Linked DNA regions of Homo sapiens. The protein of the gene in region 2 interacts with the protein of the main gene of each other region in a biochemical or structural test. Each region holds a gene or a part of one and is shown on either strand. Other genes may lie near its edges.

Region 1 (4,322 bases), on a different chromosome or scaffold from region 2:
TTCAAGCGGTGGCTCGGCACTCAGATGCACGCTGGGCGGTGCACAGGGCAGGGCGGGCAGGCGGTACACCGGCACCCCCTGCAGCGCGGGAGGCGAGGCACAAGCAATGGAGTCGGGCTCGGGTAAGGACACCCGGGTGCTCGCGGCCCAGGCCTGCAGCCACACAAGGCCGCAGCCGCAGTGGAAGGGATTGTGATAGAGTTGCAAGTGTGACAGCGCGCTAAGCGCGTCGAAGGTGCCAGGCGCCAGCGTACGCAGCCGGTTGTTGTTGATGCGCAGGGAACGCAGGTCGGGTAGCGCACCGAGTGCGTCCCGGGGCAGAGAGCCCAGGCGGTTGTGGTTCATTTTGAGCAGCTGCAGCGCGCTCAGGTTGCGCAGGTCGCTCCACGGAAAGCTGGATATGAAGTTGTGGCTCAGATCGAGGTTCTTGAGCTGACTCAGCACGGCCAGTGCGCCTGGCTCCACGGTGCGCACCTCATTGTGCGCCAGCCACAGCGACGTGACCTGTGTGACGTCGGCGAAGGCCCCGCGCCGCAGCACAGTGATCTTGTTCGCGGACAGACTAAGCGTCGTCACGTTGGCAGGCAGTCCTTCCGGCACCTCACGCAACTCTTTGTAAGCGCAGTCCGCGAACTGGTGAGCGTACTTGTCCACGCAGGCGCACGGCTCCGGGCATGATCCGGCCACTCCTAGAAGCGCCCAGACCAACCACAGGGCCCGAAGGGGGAACATCGCGGCTCCTGCAGATGGAAGCCAGGTGAAGAAGAAAGAAGGTGACTCACTGAACCCCAGCTTACCTCCCCTATCAAGCTGTGCCTCCGCAAGCCCGTTTAGCACTAGTTCCAGGGCTCCGGTAACCTCCTCTATGGCCAGGAGCCTCTCTGAAGTGAAGGTCAATAAAAATCTCGAGGTTCAACGGATGCTCCCTCCCAGGGCCCTAATTTCCTTTTCCAGCGGCCCGGTATATCGCCCTTTTTTCTCTTCCTACTCCTTCCTTCACGCTGGAGCTGGCCCCTCCGTGGGCTCCGCAGCTCGCCCATCTCCAGCGGGCTCCTCACGTACCCCTCTCTGTGTTTCTAAGCCTTCGTTTAACCTGGTGAAATGGATCCTACCCAAGAAGGACATTTTTGTCCGTGACTGGCTGTCCTCCCTGGAACCTTTGTCCCACGCACAGCACTCGCACACACGCCCATGCAGGCACACAACAATACAAACAGACGCGGGGCTTCATAATCAAACCGCCAACTTCTGCAGGGGTTTAGAGGACCTGATGCTCAATTAGGAGGCTCACAACACATTTCCTAAACTCACAAACACATATGCACCCAGACATGGACACAATAGACCCTGCAGACCTCATTGTTCTCTTAACCAGCATTTGTACGTGTTTTCCACCACGGTACAAAGCGCTTTCCTGTCCATTGTGACAATTGACAGACACAAGGACACAAGTCCTCACACGAACCGACCCACCCACAAGAACACAGGCATGTGCCTGTGTGTGCATACAGCCCTCCACTGTGACCGAAACCCAGCAGAGAAGCAATAGGAGGACCTGCACTGCACGACTTGAGATGTGGGATCTGGGGAAGCCCATCCCCATGCCCTACTGCATCTAAGGCCAAAGTCACCTGCCCGGGGCTGCAGCTCCTGTGAGGGGAGAAGAAGGGCTGCTCTGCCAACCTTCCTTACGGGGAAGGAGGTTCTCCCCCATGTTTGGACCAGGTGTGTTGGGAAAGCGGTCACTAGAGCTTCCTCTCAGGTCCCTCAGGCGGCTCCCATTGGGCAGAGGCGTCCTCAGCCAACAGGTCATGGGGCTGCCACTAGCTAATGAAGCTGGAGAAGATGAAAGATTCTGCGCCTTTCTCCACAGCTCTGCGGTGCCTAAGGACCCCCTCCCCATAACACCTTAAGCCCGGTCACACAAACGAACTTGCACAGACTCCCTGCCCCCATTTGGAGCGCCTGTCAGGTTTGGCAGAGCCCCTCCCACAACTTGTCTTTGGGAACCTGCTCCTTCACTCTGCCTTTGCTCTTCTGGGAGGGTCCCTTCCCTCCCTTCCCGGTTCCTGCCAGACAGCACCCCCACCAGCCCCGCACCCCATCAGGTGCCCTAGGCTGGACCTAACCCCACCTGGGTCAAGGTTGTGGGGTGGCCCCCATTGCTTACCCAATATTCGCCGACTCTCAGTAAATGTCCTGGGGCTGAAACCCCTTCTCCAGACCCGGCGTGGCAGAGCAGGGAAGATAGCCCAAGCAAGATACACGCATGTGTTGTGGCTGTGGGGAAAACGGGGGGCGGGGGGCAAAGAAAGGGACAGGTAAGTTTGGGGACTTGGTGGCCCCAAAGTACCACTTCAATTTTTCCTTTTGCGTCCGTTTCCCCCACCTCTCTGGCTGCAGGTTGGAGAAAGTCCTTGCGCACTCCCGGGCCTGGCGGGGACGCGCATAGCCTCTCCCGCCTCCTGCTTGGTCTACTTTTGTTAAAGCCACGGAGACCCTCCCCAAGGCCAAGACACGTCGGTCATAAGGGGCATCCCACGCCCACTGTCCTGGCTGGGCTCTTCGCAGCCTACTGCACCCCCATAACCCACGTACCCCCACATTTACACAGCCGCTGGCATTGTTACTGTCCCTGATCACACCACCTCCCCCACCCCACGTTCAAACACATTCGCGCACACAGTCCCTCACACCCTCCCCATAGCCGACCTTCACAGTTTACAATCATCCATGGTCAGGTAATAATCGCATCAATGTGTTCAGCCCCTGCTACATTCACACGCATTTTCACGGGCACACCTGCACCCGGGACACTTACCGTTCTCCTCTCGCACACGCATACACACATTCACGCGAACTCACCCTCACGCGCCTGTCCCGCCAGCGCCCGCGAGCTTCGCTGCTAATTGAATGCAAGCCGCTTTTACGCCCTGCAACACGTGAGACAAACCATCTTTGAGGAATTTGGGGGAAGGAAAGGCGCGCGGCTGAAGTGGGGGGGGAAGGCGTGTCTTTGCCTTTAAACTCTTTTTGCAAATGCAGGCGGTGGCACCGACAGACTTCGAGCGGGACCCGCTGAGCTGCGCGCAGCCGAGCTCGCGCGGACCCTTCCCTCCCGCACCCCCCGCTGCTAGCCGCCTCCTCCCCGAAGCCACGTTCAACATGATGCATAATTGATAGTGTTAGCAGAGCGCCGCACCCTCCCTACCATTTTTGCCTGGATCTGGGCTGATATAAGCCCTAGTCTCCCCCGCCCCGCCGCCCCAACCCCCCCGCCCCGCCTGCTAGTCTAACCCGACACCAGAACGCACAGCCCTGCAGGGCGTGCTGGGAAGGGACACCCCCCTCCCCAGCCCACCGCAGCCCTGCCCAGCCTCTTAAGCCGGAACTCTTTACTTCTGGTCTTTTGTGGCTAAACCAGCGCTTGAAGCCCACTGCCCGACGCGTTGGCCTGCGCGCACCGCGGGACAGGTGGAGCAGGGGGAAGCTCTCTCGAGCGCACCCAAGCACCTCACTCCAGGTCTTGCCTGCTCCAGGAGAACGGGGCACGGAAGCTGCAGCAGACAGTAGCACAGACAAGGATGGTGGCAAAACGTCCGCTACTCTTGAGCACGGTGGGCTGGGGACTTCAGGCCCGAGCATTTCTCCCATATCTGCCCCCCATATCTTCACAGCCTCTCAAGCAGACACACGGTCAACCCCACACGCACTATCCCCCAAGCCGCGGTGGCCCCTCACCGCCCCGCCGTCTCACACCCTCACACAACAGCCGGCTTCGGCAGACTCGCTGTTCCCGACTGTCGCTCCCTAGCTCTGATGAAACCCCGACATTTCTTTCAGCGACGAGGAGGCGGAGGCGCGGCGATGTCGAGGCATTTGGCTAAAACCCGGTTTCCGCCCCCCTGCGCTGCCCACGTTAGCCCTGGAGACAGCTACCGGCCATAACCAGGAAAGGGGTTCAGGCTCCGGGAGACACGCAGAATCCCCACCCATTCTGTAGCCACTGAGCTCTCTGGGAGCACCAAGCCCCACAGCCATCACCCCGGGCCATGGGGGTCTCTCGATGGCGAGGGTTTGGGGCTTCCGTGGAGATCAATACCCCGATTTGAGTGTTGAGCATCTTAATGAGCTAGGGGAGGGGGTGGGGAAGAGAGACAGGCTAAGAGCGCAGCGTCTAAAGAGACCACCCGGCCCGGGGTTCCGAGGCTGCTTTGTAAATTAAATATGAACAGACTGGTGCGCTCACACTCCAAGCGTCCCTCCCTCTCCCCTACTCCTGCCGTCGCTACGGGCGGCCCAGCGGGCTGAGACCATCGCAT
Region 2 (3,804 bases):
AGATGGGGATGATATGAATCATAATGCCACCTGTCGATGTTATGTGGCTGAAATGAGATAAAGCATGTAAAGTGCCAACTCCTTGCCTGGCACGTAGCCAACCCCAATGCCTTAGCTGTTATCACCATTATTTCCAGCAGGGGAATCAGGGAGGCATCATGGAGGAGATGGCATTTGATAAGGGACCTGAGAATGGGTAGGAATTGAGTTTGTGAAGGTGGAGGAGAGGGCAGCCCTGGCAGAGGTGGAAGAACACAGGTGGGTTTAGGAGATGGTGGCTTCCAGCTGACACCAGGGTGAGGAGCCGGGGAGGGCTTGGGCTGGAATCGCAGGGGCAGTGAGCACCAGGAAGGGAGGCAAAGCTTTCCCTTCTGCACCCTGAGGAGCAAATGTTTTCAGCCTGGCTGACTAGAAGGATGGAGATGGAAACTAGGAGAGACATGAGGAGAGATTTTGGAAAGAGGTGGTTGGGCTCCTGCTGATGTCCTAGTACTGGCTGGACATGCTGGTGAGCCTGCCCAGCTGCCGCTTGGAATTGGAAGTCTGAGCTCAGAGACAAAGGGCTGCAAATGTAGGACCCAGGGGCCCGCTGCAGCTGTGGCAGGAGAGCATGGGGAGAGCATGGGTTGGGGTGGAAGAAAGGCCGCGATCAGCTGTCTGCCTGAGCTGCAAAACCTCTCTCCAGAAGTTTCCAAAGCAGTTTTGAACATTTAGGAGCTGCCATTTTCTTAGAGTTAAAAGATGAGCTGCTGAAATGTTGATACAGCATCATTCTTTCCTCTGAGTGCTACTGAAGCAGCTCCTGGAGAGGAGAGGGGTCTCTAGGAAGATGGTGGGCTCACAGTGGGCTGTATGCTCATTTGGGACGCAGCCTGCACTCTGCTGTCTCCCTCATGGCCCACTTCTCTCTGCACTCCCTGGGCTGCCCTCTCCACAGGCTGCCTTCCTTCTCCTTTAATCAAGGCCTGGCTGCCCCATCTTCTACCCTCATCCCTTGCCATGGGTACCCTGGAGAAGAAATGAGAAGAGTAGAATGTGGAGCCCCTGGAGCTGCACAGATGAAATGTGGCTGGGTGTGGTGGCTCAGCCTATAATCCCAGGGCTTTGGGAGGCCAAGGCAGGAGGATCGCTTGAGCCCAGGAGTTCAAGACCAGCCTGGGCGACACAGCAAGACCCCATCTCTAAAAAAAATAAAAATAAAAATAAAAATAGCTGAGTGTGGTGGCAAACGCTTGTGGTCCCAGCTACTTGGGAGGCCAAGGTGGGAGGTTTGCCTGAGCCCAGGATGTCGAGGCTGCAGTGAGGTATGATCACACAGTGCACTCCAGCCTGTGTGACACAGCAAGACCCCATCTCTTAAAAACAAAAGCCAAAAAAGATAATGAAACAATCTCAGTAAACAGGGCAGCAAGAGAGGCTTATATAATGTGCCATCCACCCCACCACAAATTCTGCTGTCTACCTCCACCTGGGTCCTCTGCACCAGCCTCACTGTTACTTATCCTCAGGTGGACCCCACCCCCATCCTCACTTGGCAGTTGTGTGCAGGGCCCGCACCCCACCCTCCACCTCCTACCTCCCTAAGAAGCTGGTGGCCTCTAGACTTGAGCTCCATCACCTTCCCACCATTGCAGGGGACAAGGCAGATGGAGGCAGACCCTCCATCCTGGGGACCTCAATGTCAAAGTGGGAGTTAGGATGGGCAGAGATGTGTGCTCCTCTTTATTTTTTTTATTTTTTTATTTTTTTATTTTTTTTTTGACGGAGTCTTGCTCTGTTGCCCAGGCTAGAGTGCAGTGGCGTGACCTCGGCTCACTGCAACCTCCGCCTCCCGGGTTCAAGCGATTCTCCTGCCTCAGCCTCCTCAGCCTCCCGGGTAGCTGGAAATACAGGCGCCCACCACCGCACCTGGCTAATTTTTGTATTTTTAGTAGAGACGAGGCTTCACCATCTTGGCCAGGCTGGTCTCAAACTCCTGACCTCGTGATCCACCCGCCTCGGCCTCCCAAAATGCTGGGATTACAGGCATGAGCCACCGAGCCTGGCCCATCTGCTGCTCTTTAGATCCAGGCTGGAGGGCCTCCTGAGCCAAGATTAGGCCTGCCCACAGCCCTCTGATGACATCAATGGGGAGAACAAAGCGAGTCTTTTGTATGCTACTGTGAATTAAATTCAGGTAACATGGTATTTGCTATTAATTATGAGGGAAAAGCTTTAGCTAGTCTGAGTCCTCTCCCTATACACATTCTCCTGTGGGATCCCCTCCTGTTCTTCCCTCCCACCCTTCCTTCCTTCCTTTCTTCATAACTCCAAGTTGGAAGGGACTTGGGGATGAGAAAAGAACAAAGGAGGAAATAAAGGCAGCGAAGTTTGGATCTTCGTTCTCCAAGTTGCTCAGAATCTAGTGGAACAGACAGGACCTTGAACAACTCATTTTAACACAACCTGGTGGGAGTTATGAGGGAAGAAGCATAGAACCCAAAGAACAAAGGGGAAGAGGGACTCCGGGGATGGGAGGAGAGCTTTGCAAGGGAGGCAGTGTGTGAACTGAGGCCTGAAGGACAGGCGTTCCCCAGGGGAAAGAGGGGAAGCAGGGCATTCCAGGCCAAGCTCCGGAGTTAGGGAAAGCCATAGTTGGTTTGGGAAGATTCAATATGGTAGAGGGGTGGAGTGTGTGAGGCTGGAGAGCTAAAATTTTGCGGGCTTAAGTCTGTTTAGTAGGGACCTCCTGGGAGATCTAACCTACCCAAGAGACACACATACACACACACAGACACACACACACACATACACAACCCTTGATGGCTATGTTTGCATTTACACTCCAGCCCCCTTGGCTACAATTGCCTGGCCAGTGGTAGGCAAGAGACGAAGAGGCTCTTCTCTCCTCCCTTTCCTCCTCCCTTCCTTCTCCTGACCCTGATTGGGTCAATCAACTTCTCTCTTAGGAATTTAGAGTGGGGCTGCAGAGAGTCCAGTTCATCTCTGTTGAGGGCTCAGAAGCTCTAGGGTAGCCACATTTGGCCTCATATGCATGGAACAGCTGAGAGAGACCAGAGCCCACATAGCCACTGAGCCAGAGTATGGTCACCGCCTGTGCTCCTTCCTAGCCTTCTTTGTGGTTCCTGGGTCCTCGTGAGGCCTGGTGGCCCTCCCTGTCCTTAGCCTTCAGGGTGAGATACTCTTTTCTTATACTCACTTGGATAGCTTTCAACTTTCTAAATATATTTTTCATTTGAGACAGATAGATACATGTAAGAGAAATAAGTGTCAAGAAGTAAAATTCACCCTTACCGTGGGTAATGCACTCTTGAGAGTCTCGGCTCTTTTTTCAAATGTTGATCACAATAAACAATTTGAAAAACACAGGGCCAGCGTGAGTGATTTTCTCTTATTTGCAACCAAAAGCCTCATTTGAGAAATCGTGTTAACATATGTAACCAGCAGAGAGGGTGTGAGTACAGGGGTTACATTCTTTCTGTTCATCAGAAAGATCTGATCTCATCAGAGATACAGATAGGTTTCTACTCCTGTTTCAGCTCTAATCTGTGTGTGTGTGTGTGTGTGTGTGTGTGTGTGTGTCAGGGTCTTGCTCTGTCACTCAGGCTGGAGTGCAGTGGTGTGATCAAGGCTCACTGGACCCCCGACTTCCCGGGCTCAAGCAATTCTCCCACCTCTCAGCCTCCCAAGTAGCTGGGACTACAGGTGTGTACCATCACATCCAGTTACTTTTTTTTTTTTTAATAGAGATGGGGTTTTGCCATGTTGCCCCAGCTGATCTGGAACTCCTGGGCTCCAGTGATC

Evidence for each region.
Region 1: the proteins of LEP (region 2) and ISLR2 interact in a biophysical measurement, tested with the Homo sapiens proteins (one large-scale study listed by IntAct).

The regions. Positions count from the first base shown.
Region 1 is NC_000015.10:74,129,165-74,133,486, reverse strand, and holds the start of ISLR2 (immunoglobulin superfamily containing leucine-rich repeat protein 2 precursor), read right to left. Parts: upstream 2,902-4,322; 5' UTR 2,866-2,901; exon of another isoform or gene 2,713-2,865; intron 2,672-2,712; exon of another isoform or gene 2,390-2,671; intron 2,281-2,389; 5' UTR 2,171-2,280; intron 741-2,170; 5' UTR 733-740; coding exon 1-732. UniProt on the Homo sapiens protein: Required for axon extension during neural development.
Region 2 is NC_000007.14:128,244,025-128,247,828, reverse strand, and holds part of LEP (leptin precursor), read right to left. Parts: intron 1-3,804. UniProt on the Homo sapiens protein: Key player in the regulation of energy balance and body weight control. Once released into the circulation, has central and peripheral effects by binding LEPR, found in many tissues, which results in the activation of several major signaling pathways.